7 separate regions of the Homo sapiens genome follow, and regions 2, 3, 4, 5, 6 and 7 are each linked to region 1. Evidence: fine-mapped expression QTL. A gene starts in region 1. Each other region holds a variant in brackets. All regions are shown on one strand. Distances are from middle to middle.

What was found. PIP is the estimated chance that this variant, and not a neighbour inherited with it, causes the effect.
Region 2: its variant is fine-mapped to the expression of INPP5B in whole blood (TOPMed, PIP above 0.99).
Region 3: its variant is fine-mapped to the expression of INPP5B in B cells (Schmiedel 2018, PIP 0.95).
Region 4: its variant is fine-mapped to the expression of INPP5B in anterior cingulate cortex (GTEx, PIP 0.94).
Region 5: its variant is fine-mapped to the expression of INPP5B in pancreas (GTEx, PIP above 0.99).
Region 6: its variant is fine-mapped to the expression of INPP5B in cerebellar hemisphere (GTEx, PIP above 0.99). The same link has a PIP of 0.9 or more in cerebellum.
Region 7: its variant is fine-mapped to the expression of INPP5B in skeletal muscle (GTEx, PIP above 0.99).

The regions. Positions count from the first base shown.
Region 1 is chr1:37,944,638-37,948,714 of GRCh38, reverse strand. INPP5B (inositol polyphosphate-5-phosphatase B) reads left to right here and starts at 1,662. Exons shown (of 24, transcript NM_005540.3): 1 at 1,662-1,725; 2 at 2,381-2,463; 3 at 2,865-2,959. The coding sequence starts at 2,407. LOC105378651 (a long non-coding RNA gene) reads right to left here. Exons shown (of 5, transcript XR_001737983.3): 5 at 3,088-3,436. RefSeq lists enhancers at 1-104, 1,494-1,733, 1,311-1,840.
Region 2 is chr1:37,923,383-37,927,459 of GRCh38, reverse strand. The region is part of intron 7 of INPP5B (inositol polyphosphate-5-phosphatase B); the gene reads left to right. Among named protein-coding and RNA genes, the nearest start is that of INPP5B, 22 kb to the left of the region's middle. RefSeq lists an enhancer at 1,058-1,297. The variant G/C (reference allele first, on the strand shown) is at 1,881.
Region 3 is chr1:37,896,778-37,900,854 of GRCh38, reverse strand. All of the region lies in intron 7 of INPP5B (inositol polyphosphate-5-phosphatase B), which reads left to right. Among named protein-coding and RNA genes, the nearest start is that of MTF1, 39 kb to the right of the region's middle. The variant G/A (reference allele first, on the strand shown) is at 1,876.
Region 4 is chr1:37,810,730-37,814,806 of GRCh38, reverse strand. It overlaps MTF1 (metal regulatory transcription factor 1), which reads left to right. Exons shown (of 11, transcript NM_005955.3): 11 at 1-4,077. Among named protein-coding and RNA genes, the nearest start is that of YRDC, 4.6 kb to the right of the region's middle. The variant G/A (reference allele first, on the strand shown) is at 1,900.
Region 5 is chr1:36,951,409-36,955,408 of GRCh38, reverse strand. The region is part of intron 1 of GRIK3 (glutamate ionotropic receptor kainate type subunit 3); the gene reads left to right. Among named protein-coding and RNA genes, the nearest start is that of GRIK3, 81 kb to the left of the region's middle. The variant A/G (reference allele first, on the strand shown) is at 1,981.
Region 6 is chr1:37,799,048-37,803,124 of GRCh38, reverse strand. MANEAL (mannosidase endo-alpha like) reads right to left here. Exons shown (of 4, transcript NM_001113482.2): 4 at 1,992-3,558. The coding sequence ends at 2,922. It overlaps YRDC (yrdC N6-threonylcarbamoyltransferase domain containing), which reads left to right. Exons shown (of 5, transcript NM_024640.4): 5 at 1-180. Among named protein-coding and RNA genes, the nearest start is that of C1orf122, 6.7 kb to the left of the region's middle. The variant G/A (reference allele first, on the strand shown) is at 1,795.
Region 7 is chr1:37,888,480-37,892,556 of GRCh38, reverse strand. INPP5B (inositol polyphosphate-5-phosphatase B) reads left to right here. Exons shown (of 24, transcript NM_005540.3): 8 at 1,103-1,199; 9 at 2,833-3,000. Among named protein-coding and RNA genes, the nearest start is that of MTF1, 31 kb to the right of the region's middle. The variant T/G (reference allele first, on the strand shown) is at 1,529.

The DNA.
Region 1 (4,077 bases):
TTGTCTGGAAAAACAGAAAACCTCCTGCCTGACCCCCACCCAGTGGGAGGACCCCCAAATCCTGCAGGGACAGTTTCTTCATCATAAAAAGCACACAGCCCCATCTACTTTGCCCAGACCCTCCTCGCCAGGCTTTGACACTAGAGCAGGGCTGGAATTGGGGTTCCTCTGCTTCCCTGCAGTGACCCCACCCCTTGATCCTAAGGGTCTGAGTCAATCCCCTTTCCCCTCATCGTCCACATGACTTAGACACTGAATTCAAATAAACTTGAGCTCCATTTGTGCTGTGGATGTTTCCAGGAAAAGAAATGGATTGAGAAGAAGGCAACGACTGTTTCTGGAAGGGGTTTACATATGCAAAGTTGAACTGGTCATTAGGATGGCCACTTCACTTGGGGAAAGAGGAAGGGAAACTGTTCACAAGTCACAACAGTCACCCCCTCCCCAGCACTGAAGGCCCATTCCTTCAGTTTGGGCCAAAGCTTGAGAGAAGGTGTATTTATTAAAATAGTTCAGAAAGTAATTCACTAACTCCATAGATAACTGTGTGCCAGAAACTGCTGGTATGTTGATGAAAAGGCATAGTCCTGTCCAACGGGAGCTTACAGCTTAATTAAACAGCCAATAGGCCAAGTGAGAATGATCCTAGCATTCCTTATCTGAGCTGGGTGAGCAATCACAGCTCACTGCAGCCTTGAACTCCTGGGCTCAAGCAATCCTCCCACCTCAGCCTCCCAAGTAGCTGGGACTACAGGCATGCACCACCATACCCGGCTAAATTTAAAAAAATTTTTTTTTAGAGATGGGGTCTCAAACTCCTGGCCTCAAGCGATCCTCCCTCCTTGGCCTTCCAAAGTGCCGGGATTACAGACATGAGCCACTGTGCCCAGTCCCTGTGCTGGCTCTTTTTGTCCATCTTGGGTAACCTCCTTATCTTAGATGGGGAAATTGAGTCCCAAGGGAAGAAAGGTCTTGGCCAAGGTCACAAAGCCAGGCGGATCAGGGGAAGGACGTTGCCGGACAGGAACAGTGTCATACCCTTTATAAAGTGCGTTCACACCCAGTAGCCTCAAACAGCCCTGTGTGGCAGGAGGGCTGGGTGGGGCTAAGGGAGGAAATAGGGCAGTGTGTAGCGGTATAAATGGCCCAGGAGTTGCAGTCAGACTTTCAGTGGAGTCCCAGTGTTGCCACCTGCTAGCTGCAGGACTTAATGTCAAACTGCTTAACCTATCCAAGGCTCAGTTTCTCCACCTGGAAAATGGACATAATGGTTCTTCATAGTCTGGTTCTCCCTCCATTAAACCAGGAGAAGGTAGTTATTTTAGGGGAAGAGTTTCAGTAGAGGTCCGGGTTGTCTACCCTGGAGTGAGAAGAGCTGAGGATGGAACTAAGGAGAAAATAAAAATGCATTATATTCTTCCCCTAAGATAAAATGTGACCATCTTCCTTCTGGGTGGGAAGCTCTGGCCCCATGACCTAGAGGGCTGGGGATGGGAGTGAGGGCAATCATTAGAAAACCTTTCTGGTATAGGAAGCCCAGTGTACCCCAGGGCCTAAGGGGTTAACACGGATGGAGAGACTCCCCACCCCACGATTGACTCGGGCATGCTGGGACTTGCAGGCTGACTGACCACCATGTGGCGCAGGGGCTGTTGGGAAATGTAGTCACTGTCCCGGAACCTGGGGCAGCGGAGTCCCGTGCGCCCTGTGGTGACAGCTCAGGAGGTAGGTGACAATGTCAGGGAGCTGTGGGTGGGAGCAGAGCAGGAAAGCCAGGGCAGGGCTGGGCAGGAGGGAGTGGGCAAGCTGAGGGCTGGGACACCCCCCAACCCCCGGCCTGCAGCTGATGCAATGGGCCTGCTGGGGCGGGGGTGAAGGGCAAGCAGCAATGGGACACTTCCTGTCTCCAAGGAAAGAGGAATGGGACCCTCCTGAATGACAGTAAGGGGATGTTCCCTGAACCCCACATGGACACACCACTGACACCTCCCAGAGAGGCGCTAGCAGAACAAAAACTGTCCCCAAAAGAGAGGAAGAGCCATGTCCTAGGAGCAAAGGGACTAGGTCCCCTTCTCCAATCCACGTACCCCACTTCCAACAAGGATAGACCACACTCAAGAGCAACTGGATGCCCTCCCAGACAAAGGCAGTATAGCAAACTGTAGATCCCAGCGGGGCAAAGGGACTGGACCCCTATCCCTAAAAACTGAAAGGCCTATTCTAGGGAGGACAAAGAGGAGGAGGAGGAGGATCAGGCCTCCCCGGTACCATCTCCCTCTGCAAAGGCCCCTCCCTCCTGCCCCCAACCCCTCTGAGGCAGCTCCACCACCCCATGCGTAACTTGTTGACCAAAGCGGGGCTCCTATCTCCCCTCCCACAGGGTGTGTGCGCTCAGCAGGGGCCAGCATGGACCAGTCTGTGGCAATCCAGGAGACGCTGGCTGAGGGGGAATACTGCGTCATCATATCCTTCCTGTGCTAACTGCGGCCCTGAGCCTGCCCTGGCCTTGGGAAGAGGAATGGAAGGTGTCGAGGTGTCTATCCCCTCTCCTGCCCCTCTGAACCATCAGGGGAGAAGGAAATCAGTATTTACTAAGTACTTACTGAGTCCTGGACTCTCAGCCAAATGCTTTAAATACGCAGTTATCCTCCTAACTCCCTATGAAGTTGGGGATTATTATCCTCATTTCATAGATAAGGAAGGCTTAGAGAGCCTGTTTGTCTGTTAGTTCAGCACATGGTTTGAGTGCTCACCCAAGGCCACACAGTGAATCTGGGGGGGCAGGGGAACAGAGGGAAGGTGGGACAGCCTGGGTGGGGAGAGGCCTCGCCTCTGGGTTGTCTTCCCTTGACTCTGAGCCGCAGGCGGTGCAAGGTGTGCTGTGTGAGGGGGACAGCCGGCAGAGCCGCCTCCTGGGACTCGTGCGCTACCGCCTGGAGCACGGCGGCCAGGAACACGCGTGAGTGAGGGGCTTGGTCCCCACCTGTCTGGGCCATGGGGTTGTTCATCACTGCACCCTCCAGCTGAACTTCAACTGTCCCTCCAGGGCAGGGTCTGAGTCTCCTAGAATAATTATCACAATGATAGTTAATATTTTTTGAACACTATATTTTAAACCCTGCACACGTACTAACTCATAATCCTCAAGATCTAAGGAGGAAGTTTCTTGAGAAGAGACAGTTTAACATACTAGTCCAGATCTTGAGCCTCGTGGTCCAAATGCCTGGGTTCAAACCCAGGCTTTGTTACTAACAAGCCACATGATCTATTGTTTGTTTGTTTTGAGAAGGAGTCTTGGTCTTTGCCCAGGCTGGAGTGCAGTGGGGTGATCTTGGCTCACTGCAACCTCTGCGTCCCAGGTCCAAGCAATTCTCGTGCTTCAGCCTCTTGAGGAGCTGGTATTACAGAGGTGCCCGCCACCATGCCTGGCTCATTTCTGTATTTTTAGTAAAGACAGGGTTTCACCACGTTGGCCAGGCTGGTCTTGAAGTCCTGACCTCAAGTTATCCACCTGCCTTGGCCTCCCAAAGTGCTAGGATTACAGGCATGAGCCAGCGTGCCCAGCCTCACATGATCTTTTTTTTAGAGACGGGGTCTCTTTCTGTCACCCAGGCTGGAGTGCAGTAGTGCACTCATAGCTGCATGCTGGAACTCCTGGCCTCAGGTCATTCTCCCACTTCAGCCTCCCAAAGTGTTGGAATTTTAGGCATGAGCCACCGCACCTGGTGGAACCACATGATCTTGAGCAAGTTGTTTTACTCCTCGATTTGTCCATATTAAAGAGTAAAGTGAGTTAGGCCAGGTGCAGTAGCTCATGCTTGTAATTCCAACACTTTGGGAGGCTGAGGCAGGAAGATTGCTTGAGCCTAGGAGTTCGAGACCAGCTTGGGCAACATAGCGAGACCGCCCCCCCTACCCCGCCCCACCTCCCGCTCCCCGGCTCCATCTCTACAAAAAATAAGAAAATTAGCTGGGTGTTGTGGTGCATGCCTGTAGTCTCAGCTACTCAGGAGGCTGAGGCGGGAGGATCACATGAGCCGAGGAGTTTGAGATTACAGTGAACTACGATTGCAGCCT
Region 2 (4,077 bases), 21 kb after region 1:
ACTTGTGGTGTTGAAGTCAGGTAATGCTTTTGGTTGAGTGGCAGCTTGTTCACGTGATTCTCTTGCCAAGCCCAGCTTGCACTGACTTTAGATTGGTAGTTGAATCGGTAGATTGGTAGGAGTCTTTCTGCTCCTGCACTTATTTAACTGCTCCTTTTTTTTTTTGAGACGGAGTCTTGCTGTGTCACCAGGCTAGGAGTGCAGTGGCACGATCTTGGCTCACTGCAACTTCCACCTCCCGGGTTCAAGTAATTCTCCTGCCTTAGCCTCTCTAGTAGCTGGGACTACATACATGCACCTGCACGCCACCACACCCAGCTAATTTTTGTATTTTTAGTAGGGATGGTGTTTCACCTTGTTGGCCAGGATGGTCTCCATCTCCTGACCTTGTGATCTGCCCGCCTGGGCCTCCCAAAGTGCTGAGATTACAGGCGTGAGCCACCGCGCCTGGCCTCACTGTTCTTAACATCTTTTTTCTTTTCTTTTTTTTTCTTCCTAACCACTAGATGACCAGGGATGCTGTTAACTTCCTTTTGCAGCTTTTTCTTTCCTTAAAAAGAGTGAAGTCTGATTTGGGAGAAATACCTCATTATTTCCATCTAGCAACTGAAGTTGCTCTTATTCAGAAAACCCCATTGAGGATCCTGTACAGGGCCCAGTACTTATCCAAGTCAGTCTGTAAAATGTTCACCTGCATTGCATCCTGGGTACATGCAAAACCTGGAGCTGTGTTCTGGAGGGTTTTGAACTATGCACTAAAAAGGAAATGGCTACTCAGAAGTCCCACAGGGGCCATTCTGGGCTATTTTAACAAAGCAGTAATAGCAAATACATTTTGTTTTTTTTTAATCCAAAGTTGATTAGAAATGAGCCAGCTTCGCCGGGTGTGGTGGCTCAAGCCTGTAATCCCAGCACTTTCAGAGGCCGAGGTGGGCGGATCACAAGGTCAGGAGTTCAAGACCATCCTGGCCAACGTGGTGAAACCCCATCTCTACTAAAATATAAAAAATTAGCTGGGCGTGGTGGCGTGCGCCTGTATCCCAGCTACTTGAGAGGCTGAAGCAATCACTTGAACCTGGGAGGCGGAGGTTGCAGTGGGCTGAGATCACGCCACTGCATGCCAGCCTGACGACAGTGAGACTCCGTCTCAAAAAAAAAAAGAAATGAACCAGCTTTGTAGTAACTCAAATTTACAAGGGGATGTGTTTAAGTATTTTTTCTTCTGGACCCAGGAAACAAAGTATTAAAGTCTGTCATGCCAGTGAAAGGAAATGAATGCTATTTATATCTCAGGGTAACATAAAGGGTAACCTAGTTTACCAGAGTAGAAGCCAGAGAGCATGTTAGCAAAATAGCCCCCGGGGTGGTTTTCTCTCTCACTCTCTCTTTCATCTTGTTTTGTCAGTACTAATAGGTAAAACTTGTGTGACCAACATATCCTTTTAGCATGGAGAAAATAAATTTGCTTTTGTTTATCTTAGAGAACAAATATTGCCCATCATTTCCACCGTTGTGGGAAGCTCTGCAGGCTCCTAAGTAACTTATTTTAAGTCACTTTGTTTCCTTAAACAAAAGAGAACTGTATTCGTTTTTCTTCTTCCTTTTGTTGTTCCCCTCTCCATTTTCCTTCTTTGGGCCATTTAATCCAGTTTTATGTTTCTAGTACAAGAGAACCCCCTAAAGATTCTTTTTTTCTTCTGAAAACAGTTTGTTTTGGAATTCTGCAGTTATTGTTGAGAGCAAGTGAGGTGACCCACAAACACTCAGTTAGAAGTGGAGCTTTGAACAGAAAAATCCTCAGGGAGGGACAGTTCAGGAAGAGGGAGGCATCAATATATTTATTAGAGGAAAGATACTGTACTGTTGGAGGATAGATGCTA[G/C]CTGACTTGCATGTTTTTCTTTGCTACTTAAAATATACTGTTAGCCCGGCACAGTGGTGCGCACCTGTAGTCCCAGCTACTCGGAGGCTGAGGCAGGAGTCTTGCTTGAGGAGTTCCAGACCAGCCTGGGCAACATAGTGATATCTCTAAATTTAAATAGATAAATATATAAAATAAATTACGCTCTAACAGTTTTGTTATTGGTGATCCATACATGAACTGAAGCTAGCAAATATGAATGAGAAGAGACTTTCTTTCTTGGAATGCCAATGATGAGAATTTAAACAAAGTGGATGTCAAGAGGCCTGGACATTTTTCTTTTTCTTTTCTTCATGGTTCCTTGGTGCACTATTACTTTCTCTTTTTGTTTTTATTTATTTTTATTTTTATTTTATTTTATTTTTTTGAGACGGAGTCTCACTCTGTCACCCAGGCTGGAGTGCAGTGGTGTGATCTCTGCTCACTGCAGCCTCCACCTCCTGGGTTTAAGCAGTTCTCCTGCCTCAGCCTCCCAAGTAGCTGAGATTACAGGCATGTGCTAACATGTCTGGCTACTCTTTGTATTTTCAGTAAAGACGGGGTTTCAACATGTTGGCCAGGCTGATCTTGAACTCCTGATTTCAGGTGATCTGCCCACCTTGGCCTCCCAAAGTGCTGGGATTATAGGCGTGAGCCATCATGCCTGGACTAATTTTTATATTTTTAGTAGAGACAGGGTTTCACCATGTTGGCCAGGCTGGTCTTGAACTCCTGACCTCAAGTGATTCAGCCTGCCTTGGCCTCCCAAAGTGCTGGCATTACAGGTGTGAGCCACCATGCGCAGCCTCTTTTTGTTTTTAGAGACGAGATCTCCCTGTGTTGCCCAGGCCGGTCTCAAACTCCTGACCTCAAGTGATCTTCCCGCCTCTGCCTCCCAAAGTGCTGGGATTACAGGCATGAGCCACCGCGCTTGACCTCTTTGTACGATATTAAACGTGTGTCTCAACTTTCCTCTTATGTCTTTAAAATGGGAGTGAATGTTTGCCTCCTGGAAAGTCACACAGGACTTAAGCAATGCTAATTATTTAGACGTGCTTTCATTTGGGAAATACAATTAGAAATGGGAAATGCTGGCCAGCAGCGGTGGCTCATGCCTGTAATCCCAGCACTTTGGGAGGCTGAGGTGGGCGGGTCACTTGAGGCCAGGAGTTTGAGATCAGCCTGGTCAACATGGCGAAACCCTGTTTCTACTAAAAATACAAAAATTAGCCCGGCAGGGTGGCACATGCCTGTAGTCCCAGCTAGTCAAGAGGCTGAGGTACGAGAATCGCTTGAACCCCAGAGGTGGAGGTTGCAGTGAGCCGAGATCACGCCACTGCACTCCAGCCTGGGCAAGAGCGAGACTCTGTCTCAAAAAAAAAAAAGAAAAAGAAATGGTAAATGCTCACCTCTGAGAACTGAGAACCTGGCTGCTGTCTTCAGGGTCTATCCTAGGGGGATTTCTTCCTGATAAGAACTGCATTGGCTGGGCACAGTGGCTCAGGCCTGTAATCTCAGCACTTTGGGAGGCTGAGGCAGGTGGATCACCTGAGGTCAGGAGTTTGAGACCAGCCTGGCCAACATGGTGAAAACCTGTCTTTACTAAAAATACAAAAATTAGCCAGGTGTGGTGGCTTGCGTCTGTAATCTGCGTGCCACTTGGGAAGCTGAGACAGAAGAATCACTTGAACCCTGGAGGCAGAGGTTGCAGTGAGCAGAGATCACGCCACTGCACTCCAGCCTGGGCGACACAGCGAGACTCCATCTCAAAAAAAAAAAAGAACTGCACTTACTCCTTTCCTCCCTCCATTTTCATATTTCTGAATGCAGTCACTAACAACCTCAGGGTATCCTTGACTCTTCCCTCTGCTCTCATGTCTAATAAGCAAATTCTGTTCATTTTTTTTTTTCTGCAGTGCCTCTCCTATCTACCCACATTTCAAAATCCCCCTTATTCATGTTGGTATCCTCTTAGCTGAACTGTTGCAGTAGTCTTCTTGTAAGTCTTCCCAACCTCAAGTTTCCCTCTCCTTTAGGGATCTCCTTAGAACATAACTTTGATCGTATTCTACTATTTTGTATGTGAACTTCAATATTGTACCACTCCCTGTTGCCTATAGAATAAAGCTCAAATTCCTTAGTATAGTGGTCAAGTCCTGCACTGCCTGACCTCAGCCTG
Region 3 (4,077 bases), 48 kb after region 1:
GGGTGACAAGAGAGAGACTCTGTCTCAAAAAAAAAACAAACAAAAACCGAAAACAAAAATTAGCTGGGTGTGGTGGCATCTACCTGTAGTCCCAGCTACACGGGAGGCTGAGGTATGAGAATTGCTTGAACCCAGGTGGCAGAGGCTGCAGTGAGCTGAGATTACCCCACTGTACTCTGGCCTGGGTGACAGAGTGAGTGAGACTCTGTCTCAAAAAAAAAAAAGAAAAAAAAAAAGAAAAATTCAAAGTAAACATGGAGATCTGTGGGAACACCAGACAAACTTCCAGTTGAAAGTAGTTCAGCCGGGCGCAGTGGCTCACGCCTGTAATCCCGGCACTTTGAGAGGCTGAGGCGGGCGGATCATGAAGTCAGGAGTTCAAGACCAGCCTGACCAACATTGTGAAACCCCGTCTCTACTAAAAATACAAAAATTAGCTGTGTGTGGTGGCACGTGCCTGTAATCCCAGCTACTCAGGAGGCTGAGGCAGGAGAATCGCTTGAACCTTGGAGGCGGAGGTTGCAGTGAGTTGAGATCGCACCATTGCACTCCATCCTGGGTGACAAGAGAGACTCTGTCTCAAAAAAAAAAAACCGAAAACAAAAATTAGCTGGGTGTGGTGGCATCTGCCTGTAGTCCCAGCTACGCAGGAGGCTGAAGCACGAGAATTGCTTGAACCCAGGAGGCAGAGGCTGCAGTGAGCTGAGATTGCCCCACTGCACTCTAGCCTGGGTGACAGAGTGAGTGAGACGCTGTCTCAAAAAAAAAAAAAAAAAAAAAATTCAAGGTAAACATGGAGATCTGTGGGAACACCAGACAAACTTCCAGTGGAACGTAGTTCAGCCGGGCACAGTGGCTCACGCCTGTAATCCTAGCACTCTGGGAGGCCAAGGCGGGCGGATCATGAAGTCAGGAGACCGAGATCATCCCGGCTAACACGGTGAAACCCCGTCTCTACTAAAAATACAAAGAAATTAGCTGGGTGTGGTGGCGGACTCCTGTAGTCCCGGATACTCGGGAGGCTGAGGCAGGAGAATGGCGTGAACCCGGCAGGCGAAGCTTCAGTGAGCCGAGATCGTGCCGCTGCACTTCAGCCTGGGCGACAGAGCAAGACTCCATAAAAAAAAAAAAAAAAGATGAAATGGAAATCTTTTTATGTGTATTATTTTTTCAAATTGCTACTAAGTTGTTAGGACTTAAATACTTATTTGGCCCTAACTACTTAAGTAGAACTGTTAGGGATTCCTTTTGGCCTAGAGGTACCTTGAGAAAATTATTATTATTATTATTTTGAGGCAGAGTTTCGCTCTTGTTGCCCAGGCTGGAGAGCAATGGTGCGATCTCGGCTCACCGCAACCTCTGCCTCCCAGGTTCAAGCGATTTTCTTGCCTCACCTTCCTGAGTAGCTGGGATTACAGGCATGTGCTACCACGGCTGGCTATTTTGTATTTTAAGTAGAGACGGGGTTTCTCCATGTTGGTCAGGCTGGTCTCGAACTCCCAACCTCAGGTGATTTGCCCACCTCGGCCTCCCAAAGTGGTGTTGGGATTACAGGTGTGAGCCACTGCGTCTGGCCTCAGAATTGTTAATCAGGACCCCCATGGAACACCATTATCAACTAGAGTACAATGCTTCTGTACAGTTCCACTTGCCTTTAGTCTTTTTTTTTTTTTTTTTGACAGTTTCACTCTTGTTGCCCAGGCTGGAGTGCAATGGCGCGATCTCGGCTCACTGCAACCTCCGCCTCTCGGGTTCAAGCGATTCTCTTGCCTCAGCCTCCCAAGTAGCTGGGATTACAGGCATGCGCCACCACACCTGGCTAATTTTGCATTTTTGGTAGAGATGGGGTTTCTCCATGTTGGTCAGGTTAGTCTC[G/A]ACCTCCCGACCTCAGGGGATCCGCCTGCCTCAGCCTTCCAGAGTACTGGGATTACAGACGTGAGCCACTGCTCCTGGTGCCTTTAGTCTTATAGATACCACTCATTTCTAAAGTTACTTAGGTAAACACTTTTTCCCCTACTCCCTTCAATGAGGTGGTTTCATACCTTTGTGATATAGGTTAGACACTTTTGTCATTTTCTGCATTTTACTCCAGAATCTCCTGACGTCCTAAATGATTTTTTAAAATTTTGTATACATTAAGGTTCATTCTTTTTTTTTTTTTGAGACAGAGTCTCACCTTTCGCCCAGGCCAGAGTGCAGTGGCGCGATCTCGGCTCACTGCAAGCTCCACCTCCTGGGTTCACACCATTCTCCTGCCTCAGCCTCCCGAGTAGCTGGGACTACAGGTGCCTGCCACCGCTCCCGGCTAAATATTTGTATTTTTAGTAGAGATGGGGTTTCACCGTGTTAGTCAGGATAGTCTCGATTTCCTGACCTCGTGATCCACCCGCCTCGGCCTCCCAAAGTGCTGGGATTACAGGCGTGCGCCACCGTGCCCAGCCCAGTTTCATTCTTTGTGTTGTAAAAATCTGTGGGTTTTGAAAGCTATAGATACTACCATGTATCACCATTATAGTTTCTTTTGAGTATAGTTTTGCTGTCCTAAAAAGTCCCCTGTTCTTCATTTATTTGACCCCACCCTCACCCCCAAAACCCCTGGCAACCATTGATCTGTTTACCGTCTCTATAGTTTTGTCTTATCCAGAATGTTGTGTAATTGGAATCATATAATAAATAGCCTTTTCAGATGGACTTCCTTCACTCAGCAATATGCATTTAAGATTCATTCATGTATTTTCATGGCTTGATAACTAATTTTTCTAATTGCTTAATATTTTATTATATGGATGTATCACAGTTTATTCATCTGTTGAAATATATCTTGGTTGCTTCCAGTTTTTGGTGATTTTAACGCTGCTATAAACTTTTCTGTGCAGGTTTTTATGTGTACAAAAATTATTTTTCTTGCCATATTTTTTAGAGGTGGGATCTCCCTCTGTCACCCAGGCTGGAGTGCAGTGACAAGATCACACCTCACTGCAGCCTTGAACTCCTGGGCTCAAGTAACCATCCCTCCCCAGCCTCCCAAGTAGCTAGGACTATGGGCATGTGCCACTACTTTTATCTTATTTTATTTTTATTTTTATTTAATTTTATTTTATTATTATTATTATCATTATTTTTAATTGATCATTCTTGGGTGTTTCTCGCAGAGGGGGATTTGGCAGGGTCACAGGACAATAGTGGAGGGAAGGTCAGCAGATAAACAAGTGAACAAAGGTCTCTGGTTTTCCTAGGCAGAGGACCCTTCGGCCTTCCGCAGTGTTTGTGTCCCTGGGTACTTGAGATTAGGGAGTGGTGATGACTCTTAAGGAGCATGCTGCCTTCAAGCATCTGTTTAACAAAGCACATCTTGCACCGCCCTTAATCCATTCAACCCTGAGTGGATACAGCGCATGTTTCAGAGAGCACAGGGTTGGGGGTAAGGTCACCGATCAACAGGATCCCAAGGCAGAAGAATTTTTCTTAGTACAGAACAAAATGAAAAGTCTCCCATGTCTACCTCTTTCTACACAGACACGGCAACCATCCGATTTCTCAATCTTTTCCCCACCTTCCCCCCCTTTCTATTCCACAAAACCGCCATTGTCATCATGGCCCGTTCTCAATGAGCTGTTGGGTACACCTCCCAGACGGGGTGGTGGCCGGGCAGAGGGGCTCCTCACTTCCCAGTAGGCGCGGCCAGGCAGAGGCGCCCCTCACCTCCCGGACAGGGCGGCTGGCCGGACGGGGGTCTGACCCCCCCGACCTCCCTCCTGGACGGGGCGGCTGGCCGGGCAGAGGGGCTCCTCACTTCCCAGTAGGGGCAGCCGGGCAGAGGTGCCCCTCACCTCCCGGACGGGGCGGCTGGCCGGGCGGGGGGCTGACCCCCCCACCTCCCTCCCGGACGGGGCGGCTGGCCGGGCAGAGTGGCTCCTCACTTCCCAGTAGGGGCGGCTGGGCAGAGCGCCCCTCACTTCCCGGATGGGGCGGCTGGCCGGGCAGAGGGGCTCCTCACTTCCCCGTAGGGGCGGCTAGGCAGAGGCGCCCCTCACCTCCCGGACAGGGCGGCTGGCCGGGCAGGGGGCTGACCCCCCC
Region 4 (4,077 bases), 130 kb after region 1:
GGTTTCCATCAATCTGATGCTGCCCATCGCTTGCACTGGGGTCTTTGTGGATCGGGCAGGAGTTTTCAGTGTGTTGGGTGTTGCTCCTTCCTATGTGTCTTTTGAATCTGAGGCTGACATTTGCTTGGAAGGCCAGACCCTTGCTCCATCAGAGAGGGCAGTGGCAAAGGCCAGTGAGGCAGCTGTGAGTTGGACAGGGTTCAGGTGAGATGGTGTTGTCATTTGTGCTTAGTGTTGGTGGTGCTCAGGGTGGATAACACGGGTCGTTCTGCAGCCCGCTTCAGCACAAATAGGCAGCTTAAGGCCTGGCTCACAGGCTGTGGGGTTGATCTGGCTCTGCAGAGGCCCTAGGCAGCTTGTTGACTGCTGTCTGTTGATGACGTGTGTGCAAAGCAGGCTCTAGCAACATGATCACTGTCCTTGCCTTCCTGGTTCTTTCTCTCGGTTGGTTGCCAGGGCTTGCAGATCGCAGTGAATTTTCCTTGGGGAACATCGCTGTTTTGTCCTAGAGTGAACTTGTGGCTTATGGCCAGTGCTGTTTGGTGGTCTGCCTTCTTTTTAATGGTATTTTCTTCCTCAGAGCAGAAGGGCTGCATTTTGCTTATCAGAAGAAGGTGCAGATTTAAGGGAATTCATATGAGGTGGCATGTAATTGGCAGGCCAGGTGTCCTGGTTCCAGGTTCCAGCCAGGCTTTGGGTTGCCCCCTCCATCTCTGCCCCCCTCTGGATTTTGCATACAGCCTCATACAGTGCAAACAAGGATGTGACTTGCTCAGCTTAGTCATGTGATTTATTTAAAAAAAAAAAAAAAAGAAACACAAAACGATGATCTTCTACTCAGGGTATAGCAAAACAAAAAAATTCCCTTTCCACCAAAAAGCCTGAAATGTTGCAATAAGTTATCTCATTTGGAATGTTTCATTAAGTTGTGTTATAGGAAAAAATTGTGTGTGTGTGTTATAGAATTATATCCATATGTCTGCCTTTGGCTCCAAGTCATTGCCTCTTAAAATAAAAGATACAATCCATACTAGCATGAAAAGTTTCCCTCAACAGGCTATATTAACATAGTCATGAGTGCTGACCAAACTCACCGAGCTCAGAGGCCAGGCATGGCCTGAGGTGCAGAATAGGCCTCTGCCTCCCAAGAGCCCTTTCCTTGCCCTGAGCAAGGAGTGGTGTTCCACAAACAAGGCTGCTCTTCTAAGCCAACAGTGTCAGGCAGGAAGCAGCCATAATTTTGCCTTGCATTTTCATTCCCTAATGTAAAGGGATCTGCATTGGTCACTCTCCTGTTCTCTGAGCCATTGCTCAGGGCCAGCCAAGATATTATTGAGAACAGATAATTTACCTTGGAGCCAGAGGCCCTCCCTGCCTTTAGCAAGGATGTTCAGGGACAGACAAAGAGGGCAGTGGTGGTGAATGTTGTTACTGCCATGAGGAGAAATGGCAGTAAGAAATCTTAACTACAAGCAGCCAATTTCTCATTCCAGGACCCTAGCCAGAATAATTGACTTCTTTTTTTTTTTGAGACAGAGTTTTGCTTTTGTTGCCCTGGCTGGAGTGCAGTGGCGCAATCTTGGCTCACCGCAACCTCCACTTCCCAGGTTCAAGCAATTCTGCCTCAGCCTCCCGAGTAGCTGGGATTACAGGCATGCGCCACCACGCCTGGCTAATTTTGTATTTTTAGTAGAGACGGGGTTTCTCCATGTTGGTCAGGCTGGTCTCGAACTCCCAACGTCAGGTGATCCTCCCGCCTCAGTCTCCCAAAGTGCTGGGATTACAGGTGTGAGCCACCATGCCTGGTCTAGGGAATTGACTTCTTTTTGACCTTCTGCACTCCCTTCCCCAAAAGGATTGTGGCTTCTGTTGACCATTGACCTCAGCAGAAGTTGATAA[G/A]GCAGGAGGTTTCCAGTCCTCCTGGAAAACCAACTGCTGAGCATGAGTTGTCCTTGGCTGTCTCTGGGCCTCGCACCCATGGGAAGTTTTGAGGTAGGGCCCTTGCTGTTTACAACTTCTGAGAGAGTAGTGATGGGACCCCAAAGTAAGCTTGTATCAGAGGGCAGTAATGACCTTCCCATATCCCCATCCTGTGGTCACCTGGGATTTGGGTTCCCTGGGGCGGAAGTGGGAAATAGGAGCCCAGGGAAGGACATCTGAAGCACCCACAGTTTAAATAGCGACTCTTCTTGGTTAGCCAGGGCTGTGCTCATGTTGGGCCCTACCCAGGTCAGTGGCCTTTTCACTCTCAAAGATCGGGGGTGACGAAGCAGCATCTTAAACAGTGTTTAGGCTGACAGATTTTTCCAGTTGAAGAAGCTGAAGTATCTGCCTTTTGAGGGTGACTCTAGATTACAAGAGAGACTATCAGATCCAATCAGCTTTTGAAAAATCAGGAATGTGCTTAAAATGCCAGTGAGTGGTTGTGAAGATCAGGTTTATTTCCCAGGATAGGCAGTCTTTCTTTCCCTCCTTTTCCAGTTCTCTTTTCCTACCTGTCCTTCCATAAGCCTGGTCTCTAGTGCCGAGGACCTTGGAGAAGAGAGGGCCCCTAGCTAAGCTGGAGCCAGAAAGAACCTTCATGGTGAGTGTGGTTTCCCAAACTTGGGAAATGAACCTAGGGTGAGGTTAGGGAGGATTTGTAGAATTCTAGCAGGTAAAAATCAAGCCTTTTTCCCCTCCCATAGTAAACTTAACCATTTTCACCCTGTACGTTATCTTCTAGCTCCTACTAACATCTCCAATTAGACAACCGCTTCAAAGGGTGCTTAGCACCAGGGATTGGGGTTCATGGACTTAGGAGGTGGTAAGGAAACTGGCTGGCACCACCAAACTGCCTTAGTGAACTTGGCCCTTCCCAGGCAGGTAGGTTGGGCATTGAGGGAAGGTGGCCCAGTCTTTGCTGGCAGGGTCTGGCCAGTCTCATGGGGGCACCACCAGTTTGGTGACAGAAGTGGTGTCATTTATTGAATTCCACCTCCGTTTAGAAGGAGATCATGGTACAAAGCCCAGGAGGGGCCTTAAGATGTGAAGATCTCTCTGAGTAAAAGGCAAGGGGCTTCTCTTCTTCACCTCTGGGATAGTTGGTAGATCGGAGAGTTTTATTTTCAGGGTCAAGGCTGTGGACTGATGGGGATATTGGAGGGTGGGTGGGTTTTCCTGAGAGACTTTGTATAATGCTGAATGTGTCCAGAGGGACAAGTTTGCAGAACCTCATATTGGTATATTAAAGAAATAATAAAATAAAAAAGCACTTTAGGTTATTTTATCTTTAACCCGATTGCTGCAATTTCTTTTGTGTGTATATATACATATATATACTTTCCACAAAGTTTTATTTTTTGCTCAGAATAAAAAGTTAAATTGAGGTGTGAAAAGAAAAGCACTTACCTTGGTGCAATATGTGTAGCTTGATGGTCGTTGTCCCATGTGGCCCTGGCCTGGCAGCGTTTTTCCGCTCAATCAGCCCTGTGCTGTGAGACTGTCCATAGGGAAACACTATTATGCATTCTCAGCAACCGCTCAATCTATGCAAGCCTTCCCTGTGTGCCCCAGGGCGCCCCCTCAGGCTCTCTGAAGAACTGCTGTGGGTCCTGTTTTCTGCTGACTGTTGAGGCCCTTTTTCATCACTTCTTGGTCTCTCGCCATCTTTTCCCTCTTCACCATTACAAAATGATGCCTGAAAGGAAGGAACAGATTGTTCCTAGGTAGAAACCTGGCACCTTCTAGACTTTTATATTTGTAATCACATCCATTGTCCTTAAAGACTTTTCCAGAGTGATTGAAACCATTGATTTGTGGAACTGCAACAATATTTCTCAAGAGTTTACAATTGTCTTACACCACCAATCAGAAATATGTTTGGGGAGGCATGGGTGGCAGGGGGCAACATGAGCCATTTCCATACTGCTCCCCATACTACCTGTGTTGGTTCCTTAAGCAAAAAGGCCTCCAGCCTTCATTAAATCCTATAAACAAACATTACATCCCATGAATCATTATCAACTTTCTTCCTTTACTCCACCTCCCCCATTTTATCTTCAATTCTCAGGCTATAGAATAGACAAGTTTTAGAAT
Region 5 (4,000 bases), 990 kb after region 1:
TCAGCCTCTGTGTATCCATCCACGTGTTTGTGTGCACGTGTGCGCTGCTCGGTGTGTGGACGGGGAAGCACAGTTTGGGTGGTGTTGGGTCAGGCCCAGCCCCTGTACCCCACCGCCCCACACCTGCCCCTTCCTGTCCTGCTGGCAGGGTTGATGACAGCCATGCCAGGCCCTACCCTTAGCCAGGTGGGCTGTCACTTATTTAGGGCTGCTATTTCAGGAGGGGAAGCAGCTGGCTGGCGGGCTGCTCATCTGAGCCTCAGCAAATCAGTGAGCTCAGGACCCACTCTGGGGTGGCCCCTCACTGCTGAAGTCTGCTTGGGGTTGGAGGCCCATGTGGCTGAGGCCTCTGTCTACCACCCTGACACCACTTATAGCACCACCATCCAATGTAGAGCTGGCTTGGGCTTCCTGCCTGTTCTCAAAGGAATAGGCCCTTACCCAGGGCTCCTATGGACCTGTGTGTGTGTGTTCGTGTGTGTGAACGTGCATGTGCACAGGTGGGTACACACAGGCATGTGTCCCTGGGTCCACACCTGCAGGCACTTGCCCACTATGCACTTATACTTGTGTGAGGAAGGGCACCTTTCTGTGGCCTGAACTCATGTGTCTGTAGCTGGTTTTTTTCTGTGATTTGTCTATGCATGTGTGTGTCCTTGTGCGTGCACAGGTGTGTACACATGTGCTTCTCTGCGTGTGTGTGGACCTGTGTATGCATATGTATGTGCATGCACACTCTTTCCCCAGCCTCCTTACAGTAATCAGGGGAACCTCAGGGACCTGTCCTTTGGAACACAGACATGTGCTACCTGTGCTCCTGCTGCTGGCCTCAGCCCCCGTCCCCACCCCAAGAGTCCTGGAGACCCACACATGCCACACAATGCTGCCTTGCCCAGAACCCTGGAGTGGCTCCCCACATGCTTTCTGTTGGCCTTCAGGGTCGGGGGCCTCCTCCAGGCCACTCTCACTTCTCCCGCAGATGACCTTTCTGGCTGCTCTGATTGGCATGTGGCTTCCTCTACTGAAAGGCATTCCGTGACTCTTCACTGAGCAAGTCCTCTGATGCTGAGGCTGTGTGCTGGGCTCCAGGAGAGGCAGCAGGGGTAATCATGGGCCAGCATTCCAAGACGTCTTAGGCTAGTGCAGTGGCAAGATCCTGGAGCTCAGATGTAAGGTGTGCTAGAGAGAGGTGAGCTTGGTGAGGGGTGAGAGCTTCCCAACAGGAATGCCCCCCTCTATCTCACCCTGAGAAGCATTCTTGTCTTTGAGAGTCCCTGGCACAGCCCCTCATCTGGTTCCCCAGCGGAAAGGATGCCCTTCGTCCCCCTTGACCCCTTGCACCTAGTAGATCCCTTTCCTCTTAGGACTAACGGTTTCCCATCATCAGAGCTTGGCTCAGCTGGCACGAAGGAAGGAGGCCAAGGGCAGTCTGACTGCAGGGGCAGTACCCTTGGGAGACAGGGGCTGGGGGTCCTCTGCCCTCTAATTGTCCTTTCCCGGCAGCTTCCCTCAATCAAGCCATTGATTTGAGGGCCCCCTCTGTGCTTCCCCTCCAGGGGAGCTTCTTCAGGGCCATGCTTTGATTGCTGCGGAGCGAGTGAAGCCTGTGTGAGCATCCCCTCTGAGCATCTCTCACCACCTGCCCTGCATCTCTGCTTGGACATCTCAAAGGCACTCAGCCCCAGCTGGCACCTTCGGGTGCCACTTCCGTGAGCTGGAAACCTGTGGGGTCCCTACCGACTCCTTCCTAGTCACCTTTCCTTTCCCCTGCCTGGTCCATGGCCCCATTGTGCAGATTCACCACCTAAGCATACCCAAGCCCTCTTCTGTCTGCCAGCAGCCTGCCCTAGGCCATTGTCATCACCACCTAAGCTCTTCTCCTTACGTATGCCCTAGCCCTCACCCTTCAATCTGTTCCACATGTGAGATCTACAATTTTGATCATGGCACTCTCCTGCTTAAAGCCATCAATAGCTCACC[A/G]TTGCTTTTAGGATGACTCCTGCCCTTCACTTGGCACACTAACTCCTTTATCCTGCAGGTCTCGGCTCAACAGCATATCTGCAGGGAGGCCCCCTTGGACCTCACTCCTCTTGCCCTCTACCTGTGCCAGGCCAGGTCCTCTTGCCATCTGTTCTGCTCAAGCTGGGAACGCTCCGCACTTGCCAGAGCCCAAGGGCAGCTCCTCCTGACTAAGTGCTATGAGGCAGGGGCAGGGGGAGGGGCAAGGACAGGGCTGTCCACACGTTGTCCTCAGTGCTAGCAGTGAAGTGTTGTGTCTGCACAGACATGGAGCCCAACAGACGTGTGCTGAATGAATGCATGAGTAAAGGGCACTTGAGCACAGTCTCTTCCTCCTCCTCCCGCTCCTCCTCACCCAAGTAGTCCTGGGTCAGCCTGCAGAGCCCTTCGGAGGACACAGCATGGACACCCTGATGGTGATGCTGATTCTCCCTGTCAGCTGCCTTGTACAAGTGTTGCACGTGCTGTTCCCTCTACCTGGAGCATTTCTCTCAGGCACATAGCTCGTTCCCTCTCCTCCAGATTTGGCTTCAAGTGTTCTCACCTTGAAGAACCCTTCCCTGAACACCATGTATAAATTAGACCCCCCAACACCCAGTATTCCCTATCATCTCCTTTTGGCTTTTCCTTCCTGGCACTTATCACAATGGAATAGTCATTTATTCATTCATTCATTCATTCATATGCTTTCTCATTATCTGTTTGCCCCACCAAACTCTAAGCTCCCTGGAGGCAAGTTCCTCCCCACTGTTGACCCGGCACCCATCAGAGCCTGCTGGCACACAGTGCGTGTTCATTATGTGTGTAAATGAAGGATTGCATTATGTAACTTATTTTCCAACCCTGTCAGGGATCCACTTTAGAGATGAGAAAACTGAGGACCAGAGAAGTGAAGAAACTCACTAGTGGTCACAAAACTAATGAGAGAGGTGGTCTGGAGGTTCACATCCAGATTTGACTGATCCTATTTACTCTCATTCATTCATTCATTCATTCAGCACCTGCTCTGTGCAGAGGCCCTGTGCTGGGAACAGAGGCACAGAGATGGGATCATCACAGCTGCTGCCTGGATGACAGCTCAGTCCAGAGGGGAGGGGACTGAAGACAGTGGTCAGGAGGAGGCCCTAACGGACATCGTGGGCCCTGAGGAGACACCATGGAGGAAGGGCTCTTTGAGTAGGGTTTTGAGGGATGAGTAGGCTCTCGTGGCTGAGTGGTACGTATTGTACAGCAGAAAGAACACTGGACAGGGAATCAGGAGGCCTGTGTTCCAGTCATCCCCACTCCCTGTCACTTTGGGAAAATCACATTCCCTTGCTGACCCTGTTTCTGCATCTGCAAAGCCGGGCAGGCCCTGTGCTGACAGTCTGTGGGCTGAGGTGGCTGACTGGCAGGAACATTCATTTCCCTTCGATGCTCCTCCCCACAAGACAGAACCCACCTGGCAGAGGCCCTGGCTGTTTGGCAGAGTGGGCAGAGCATGGGGCAGCTGCCCTCTACCTGCCCTGCCTCCTGTGGTCCTCCCGCCCCTCCGCCCTCCAACCTCCTTCTCTCTGCTTCTTCCCTGTTCCCCCCATTTCTGCCCTCTCCTCTCCCTCCTCCTCGTCTTCCTCAGCCCCTTTCATCCTCTTCTCCTTCTCCCTCCCCCTTTTATTCCTCCTCTTCCTCACCTTCTCTTCTTTCTCCCCCATTATTTTCCTGCTGCCCTGCCCAAGGGGGAGAGCACAAAGGGTAGTCAAAGTTAATTTAGGCTCAAGTACCTGGTCACCTAGAAACAAGGCCAGTCCCCCAATGCAGGGCCTCAGCCGTGGCCTCATTAATCTGCATGCGACCAGCATTGCCAGTTCGACATAAGTAGGACAGAAGCCATGCTGCCGAGGAGAGGGGGCCTTGGGCTCTGGCCACTTGGTCCCCCAGCAGTCACGTGGCCACCCCCCAAGTGTGCAGTGGGAAGAAGACAAAGGAGAAGGAAGGAGAAACA
Region 6 (4,077 bases), 150 kb after region 1:
TATTTATTCATAAAATAAATTATAGTTAATTATACCCATAACACCTTTATTTAAATCCAGTGTTCTCCGCAGCCTTTTGTCTATTTATATGTGTACCAAGTGTTAAACATAATTATTATTGGGCATTTGAACTTTGTTTTTCTTTAAAGAAATGCTGCTATTAAACATATTTGTAAATGGTTTGTTTTTCTTCTTTTGAATTATTTCCTTAGGAGAGTAGGTCAAAGTGTAGGAAGTATTTATGGCTCTCAGTATGGATTAGCCTTCAAAAGAACTGAGTCAAGTTACACTGCTGTTAGCAGTGTGTGAGAATGGCTGCCTCTGCCCCCTGGCCTTCCCATGTTTAGTATTTTTCAGATTGTGTGTGTGTTAAATGAAGCCAGTGTTGCTACCTTCTGTAAATTACTACAGGTCAACATCCAACCCTTTCAGCTGTCCCTGCCTGCCTTGGTTTCCCCAGCTAAGCCCCAAAGCCAGGTGGCCAGGCCTGCTCATCTCTCTGGTGGGGCTTAATATCAGTTACCTAACTGGGGCTGGGTGTCCTTGAGGTGACCACTGGGGTCTATTTCCTCCTTCCTCCCCTTCCCTCTTGTACCCTAGTTCCCAAAATTCTGATTCAGTCTTTTTTTTTTTTTTTTGAGACAGAATCTCTGTTGCCCACACTGGAGTGCAGTGGCACGATCTTGGCTCGCTGCAAACTCCGCCTCCCAGGTTCAAGTGATTCTCACACATCAGCCTCCTGAGTAGCTGGGACTACAGGTGTGCACCACCACACCCTGCTAATTTTTTTGGTATTTTTAGTAGAGATGGAGTTTTGCCATGTTGGTCAGGCTGTTCTTGAACTCCTGGCCTGAAGTGATCCACCCGCCTTGGCTTCCCAAAGTGCTGGGATTACAGGCATGAGCCAAGGCACTCAGCCCATTTTTTACTTTTTTAAAGACACGTCTCTCTGTGTTGCCCAGGCTGGTCTCGAACTCCTGAACTCATCCTTCCACCTCAGCCTCCCAGAGTGCTGGGATTACAGGCATGAGCGACCACGCCTAGCTTCCAATTCAGTCTTGAGCCCATAAACTTCTCAGTACAGTGGTTTCCAATGCACCTGTTTCCAAGTATATCCTAAGAATCTTGTGTTAACAGGGGCCTGCTTTAATCAGGGTTCCTGCAATTAGCGTATTAGTTTATTGGTAAATAAGCACTGGTTTGTTAATTCCCTCTAGAAATCTTGTTTAGTAATGTTTTTTGTGTTTTCTTTTTGTTTGTTTGTTTGTTGTTTTTGTTTTGAGACAGTCTTGCTCTTGCCCAGGCTGGAGTCCAGTGGTGCCACATTGGCTCACTGCAACCTCCGCCTCCCAGGTTCAAGCGGTTCTCCTGCCTCAGCCTCAGAAGTAGCTGGGATTACAGGCACCCACGCCCAGCTAATTTTTGTATTTTTAGTAGGGATGGGGTTTCACCATGTTGGCCAGGCTGGTCTCGAACTCCTGACCTCAGGTGATCCACCTTCCTTGGCCTCCCAAAGTGCTGGGATTACAGGTGTGAGCCACCACGCCCAGCCTTGTTTAGTAACTTTTTTTTTTTTGAGACGGAGTCTCGCTCTGTCGCCCAGGCTGGAGTGCAGTGGCGTGATCTCGGCTCACTGCAAGCTCCGCCTCCCGGGTTCACGCCATTCTCCTGCCTCAGCCTCCCAAGTAGCTGGGACTACAGGCGCCCACCACTACGCCTGGCTAATTTTTTTGTATTTTTAGTAGAGACGTGGTTTCACCCTGTTAGCCAGGATGGTCTCGATCTCCTGACCTC[G/A]TGATCCGCCCATCTCGGCCTCCCAAAGTGCTGGGATTACAGGAGTGAGCCACCACGCCCAGCCATTGTTTAGTAATTTCTTAAGCAAACCTACTTGTTGTGGTAAAGCCATAGCCAGCCCAGCTCCTGTATCAGTTTGTCACAGAATCTAAGGTCAGAATCTGTGAGGTCTTAAAGAGAGCAAAAGGAATGCTTACTTGAGAATACCAGTTCATATTTAATTACTACTAATCACAGTAGCACTGAACATGGCTCTAGTGAGTGGGCCTCAGTCAGTTCAGGCAGCTAAAGGGAGGGGGATTTCCTCCTAGTCCTCTCCCTAGAGCTAAATATGCATCTGGGAAAAATTAGGCTCTGGAGCACAGAGGTATTTTTCTAGAGGAAAAAGAACTGAACTCCCAGCACTAGGTAAAACTGCAAAAAGAAAAACACCTGTGCCCAGGCACTAGCTACAAGGCCACACCAGAAAAGGAAAGCTGGGTCCTGGAAGCTTCAGGACAGGAACTCTTCCTTGGTCAAGTTTTCCCCAGCACCTAGCACATAGGAAGGTGCTTGATGAGTGAGTGTTAAATGAACCTGTGAGTGCTCAGGATGATTTCCTGATAATTGGGTTCAGGAATCTACTGGGAGGAGCTTAAACCTAGAAGTTCCCTTTTTGAAAGTCTCAAATATGGTTCCCTAACTTAGAGAAGACAGATGATGTGGGAAGGAGGCCTGAGGAGAGGATGCAGGCTGGCAGAAGGGAGCAGGGTGCATGCGAGCCCAGACCCTGACACCCTTCCAAGGGTGGTGACTGGGTGGCCACTACACAGCACCAGCCTGCTGCAGAGTTCAAAACTAGAAGGGGTTACATGAAAGTGTTCCCAGGATGTGGAGCTGCCCTGGGCTAAGTTCAGTCACCTGCCAGCCTCTGCCGTTCCCATCACCACAGAGCACCTCAGCACCACTCGCCTGAGGAACGGGCTCTGTGTTGCACAGGCCCATGCCTGACGGCCCACCCAGAAACACCCATCTGCTGACCTCTGACCTGGGAACGAGTGAGTGGCTACAACCTCAGCTGAACCCCACATGGTGACATCTTCCAGCAAGGCAAGGACATCAGCACCTCACGCCCATTTACAGGCCCCTCACATGAGCCACTGCTCCTTCTCTTTGATGAAGTGCTCCGCCCAGCGGCGTGTCAGCTCCAGGTACAGGCTGGGCTGGTGAGGCAGGTAGTCCAAATACAGGCGGGTGGGTGTCTTCTTGGGAATGGCCTTCTCAATCTGGGTGCCCTCGTGCCACTCATTGAAGGAGGTAATGGAAACGATCTCGGGCCTCACTGTCAGGGCCGCCTGCAGGGCCGTCTCATAGTACTTGCCATTGACCCTGTTGCGCGTATTGTGGTTGTTCCAGGGCCGAATGCTGGTGTCTATGTAGCCAGGCCCCACACTGGGGATGAACATGAGGTTGTTGGCATCACAAAAGTTCTTCACAGCTTTCCAGTTCTGATGGGAAGAACCAAAGGAGAAACCATTGGAGGCAAAGTAGGTGTACATGCCGTCAAATCCGGCGGCCAGGATATCGTGGGTGTGGCCCTCCTCCACCAGCAGCGCTATGAAGACCCCATCGTAGGGCGTGTTGCGGATCGAATGGGGCCCGTTTGGTGTCAGGAGGTGGGCCCAGGCCTCAGGGGACGTCAGGTATGAGTCGTAGATATAAAAGAGTGGGAGGCTCTTGCCCATGCTGTTCTTATAGCGGTAAAATGCACCATGGGAGCCATACCTGAGAAGGAGAAAGAAGAGCCTCAGCTGGATGGGAGAGACCAGCACAGCTGTAGGACCTCCCGTGGATGAGATACGGATGCAACACAGCCCAGTTCTGGAGCCAGTCAGTCTCCACAGTTGGAGTCATCATGCCTCTAAGCAAGAACCTGGTTCCCTCCTTCCTCTCTCCAGTTGTCATTCCTAAGCCTCACTTCCCTACCCTTAGCCAAGCCACCACCGTCTTCCATCTGGATTGCAACAACAGCCAGCTAACTGGTCTCCAGGCTCCCATCCTGCCTCCATATAATCCATTCATTATTCCCACCTACTTGATCTGGCCCTGCCTACTCCATTCCTGCTCTTTTCCCAGCTATTACTCCCCATCTGGCCTTTCTATCCGGCTCTCATGTGTCATGCAAGCTTGTTCCATCTTATGGGACTTGCATCTGCCAGCCCTCTGCTTGGAATTTTCTCCCTGCCTCCGGATCTTTGCAGAGCTGACCCTTTTTCTTTTCTTTTTTCTTCTTATTATTACTAC
Region 7 (4,077 bases), 56 kb after region 1:
CTCCAGAGCTCCTTCCCATAACTTGGGTTTTAAAATCACATCTCTCTGTGACCGCTTCATGTTGTTCCCTGTTGACAAGAGATCTGGCTTTTAAAGAGCAGAGAAGCTATTGGCAGATTAATTTTCCTTTCCAGGTTTATCTTGGTTTAACGACTTTCCCAAAATATTTCTGGGTTGGGCCCTTGGGCTCTTTGGTTTTCAAGGCAATTTGTCAACAATGACAAGCGCTTCTCATTTTCTAGAGCTCTTAGACTATTTCCAGTTTTAATCTCTGACCCTTGCCTTTCTCCTCTTCAGAGTGGAAGTCGCTATGTTATGTTTTATAATATGTTGTATTGCTTTTAAAGTGCCTACTCATATGTCAACTCAGTTGACCCTACATTAAACCTGTGAAGAAGGCAGGACAGGTCAAATTACTGAGATTGAGAGAGGTTAGATGGCTTTTCCAAAGTCAGGAGGTAATAAATAATAAAGCAGGTGATAAAACTCAGGTTTTCAGATTTCATGGTTTTATTCTTTCCTTAATGTACCCTTTATCCAAGAAAAGGGAGTTAGACTAGCTGGAATAGTTACACTTTCAGCAGTAAAGATACCTGGATGAGATACTTTTTTCTCCTTCTGTGTATGGTCTGTGGGACTTCACCCAGACATCAGCATAGGCCCTTTGAAGCAATATGTGGACTACCAATAATTCCTAGACTACAATTTCCGAAGCTGTTGTCTGTATATTAAAGCATATGTATGTTTCATTTATTTATTTATTTGTTTGTTTGTTTGTTTTTGAGATGGAGTTTTGCTCTTGTTGCCCAGGCTGGAGTGCAACGGCACGATCTTGGCTCACTGCAACCTCCGCCTCCCGGGTTCAAGCGATTCTCCTGCCTCAGCCTCCCGAGTAATTGGGATTACAGGCATGCACCACCATGCCTGGCTAATTTTGTATTTTTAGTAGAGACGGGGTTTCTCCATGTTGGTCAGGCTGGTCTCGAACTCCCGACCTCAGGTGATCCACCTACCTTGGCCTCCCAAAGTGCTGGGATTACAGGCATGAGCCACCATGTCCAGCCTATGTATGTATATTTTAATTTCTTCTCCTTCCCTTTAGGTGGTTCTAACTTTGATGGTTTGAGACCAAATGGGAAGGGAGTGCCTATGGACCAAAGCTCCAGGGGTCAAGATAAACCAGAAAGCTTGCAACCAAGGTAATGCAACTCTCCCTTCACTTGTCCCTTGTAGGACTGAGGTTCTCCTCACAGTACTGAGACCATTTTGGGTATAATGTAAGTTGTCCCAGGGTAGCTGGCCTAGGAAGTGTCCTTTTTTTTTTTTTTTGAGACAGAGTTTCGCTCTTACTGCCCAGGCTGGAGTTCAGTGGCATGATCTCGGCTCACCGCAACCTCCACCTCCTGGGTTCAAGTGATTCTCCTGCCTCAGCTTTCTTGAGTAGCTGGGATTACAGGAATGTGCCACCACACCTGGCTAATTTTGTATTTTTAATAGAGATGGGTTTTCTCCATGTTGGTCAGGCTGG[T/G]CTCGAACTTGTGACCTCATCTGATCCTCCCATCTTGGCTTCCCAAAGTGCTGGGATTACAGGCATGAGCCACCGTGCCTGGCTGGAAATGTTCTTAATAATACCTGACATTTATTTGCACTTACTGCCAGGCACCCTGCTCTTATTTGGACTATCTTATTTTAGCCTAAGAGGTAAGTACTTTTTTCTGTTTTACAGTTAGGGAAACTCAGGTAATGAGAAGTTATATAACTCACCCAAGGTCCCAGAATTATCAAGTGGTCAATCTAGGATTTGGAACTGGCAGTCTAGCCCTCCCTTGAAAATGTAGATTAGAAACGTTTGATTTCACTCTTTCATTCTTTTAGGTGTTTCCTGACTCTGAAGTGACTTTTTTTCCTGTTTTATTTACTCTTTCCTGACTCGCCCCTGAGGTGTGTTATTATATAAATATCTGAAGTCTGTACTCCAGTGCCCCCTACTGAATATCTCCAGAATCTGTCTGGTCAAGATAAAACACTTACTTGTATCAGTATTTTAGTTACGACTATAAATACAGTACAATGCAAATAATAATAAAATATAAATTCTCATTGCCTTTCTTTTTATTTTGGATTATTCCTGTGGAATAGATGTACAGAATAGAATGATCAAGTTAAAGGACCTAGAGGGTTTTACAGTTTTTTTCTTTTTTTTTCTTTTGAGACAGAGTCTCACTTTGTCACCCAGTCACTGCAGCCTCCGTCTCCCAGGTTCAAGTGGTTCTTGTGTCTCAGCCTCCCGAGGAGCTGGGATTATAGGCATGTGCCACCACACCCAGCTCATTTTTGTATTTTTGGTAGAGATGGGATTTTGCCATGTTGGCCAGGCTGATCTCGAACTCCTGGCCTCAAGTGAGTTGCCTCCCTTGGCCTTCCAAAGTGCTGGGATTACAGGCATGAGTCACCATGCCCGGCTTGTCAATTACATGATTGAATCCCATACTCTGCCACCATTCATGTGGGTGAGGCGTTAATGACACTGGGTTTCATTTTTCTCATTTAGAACTGAGGGAATTAGATTATCTTTAAGATGCCCCTCTGGTCTGAGATTCTGTGACTCTATTATTAGGAAAATCTCCAGACCAACATATTATACAATCAACAAAATATAAATTTACTTAATTCCACATAGAAATAGTGTTGTTTTAGTAGATAAATTTTACTTTGGCCTCCTTTAGTCTTCTGTGACTTAGATGCTTGTATAGGGGAACTTTTAGCTTTGTATTCATTCATTTTGCCATGGGGACTCATCCACATATGAAAAAAATACTTCTGTTTTTCCAGACAGAATAAATCCAAGTCCGAAATTACTGACATGGTTCGCTCCTCCACTATCACAGTGTCGGACAAGGCTCATATTTTATCCATGCAGAAGTTTGGACTGCGAGATACAATTGTGAAATCACATCTACTACAGAAAGAAGAGGATTACACCTATATCCAGAACTTCAGGTAGCTAACTGGGTTCTAGGATGTTTTCAGAGCAGAATGATCATTTGGCACTCTGGAATTTGAGCACTTCCTCCTATACCTGGATTTGGAGACATACTCTTCTATAGAATCTCTCCCCTCATTTTCAAAATGAGTGATTCCATGCATTCTTTATTAACAGGCATTTATTCTGTGCCCTTTCTAGGTGGGCACGGTGATAGGTGTGGTATAGTGGGAGTGACACGACTTGCAGATAGTTACAGAAATATTTGTGGAGACAAATGGGTACAGAAGAAGGAGCGCCATCCTGATTCTTTTATTTATTTATGTTTTATCTTTTTGAGACAAGGTCTCGCTTTGTTGCCCAGGCTGGAGTGCAGTGGTGCAGTCACAGCTCACTGTACCCTCAGCCTCCTGGGCCCAAGTAACCCTCCCACCTCAGCTGCTGGAGTAGCTGGTAATACACATGTGCTGATTTTTAAATTTTTGTAGAGACAGGGTCGCACTGTGTTGCCCACATGGGTCTCAAGCTCCTGGGCTTGGGCAATCCTCCCGCCTTGGCCTCCCAAATTGTTGAGATTATAAGTGTGAACCACCACACCTGGCCTCTTGATTCTTATGTATCCCTCCAAGGTTTTATACTCCCTTGGCATTCTGGGCCTTTGAAGAAAGTCATTTAAAATGAAATTACTAAAATGAAGTTAGCTGGTGTTTGGTAATCTTTTTAGGCAAGATTACTAAAAGCTAAATTAATAAAGGTTGTGGGATTCTGCTAGATCTTTCAAAATCGTTGCATTGGGACTATAAGATAAAATAACATTGTTTCTAGGGATACAAACTGTGAATTATGGTGAAGAAATAGCCTTTTGAATACTGGTGTTGCTTTCTTGCCAAAAGTAATTACCAAAGCACTTTTCATTTTTTCATTTCAGTAGTATATACAAGGCAAATAATTATGCAGATAATGCCTGGGTAATGGCTGTTTAAAGGAAGTGGGAATGTTCGGAGTAGGCCTATACTATTTGAAGTTGTTATCACAAAAGTAACAGATACCATGACAGACCGCAAGTCACTCCTTGGTGCTGCAGTCCTGGTCTA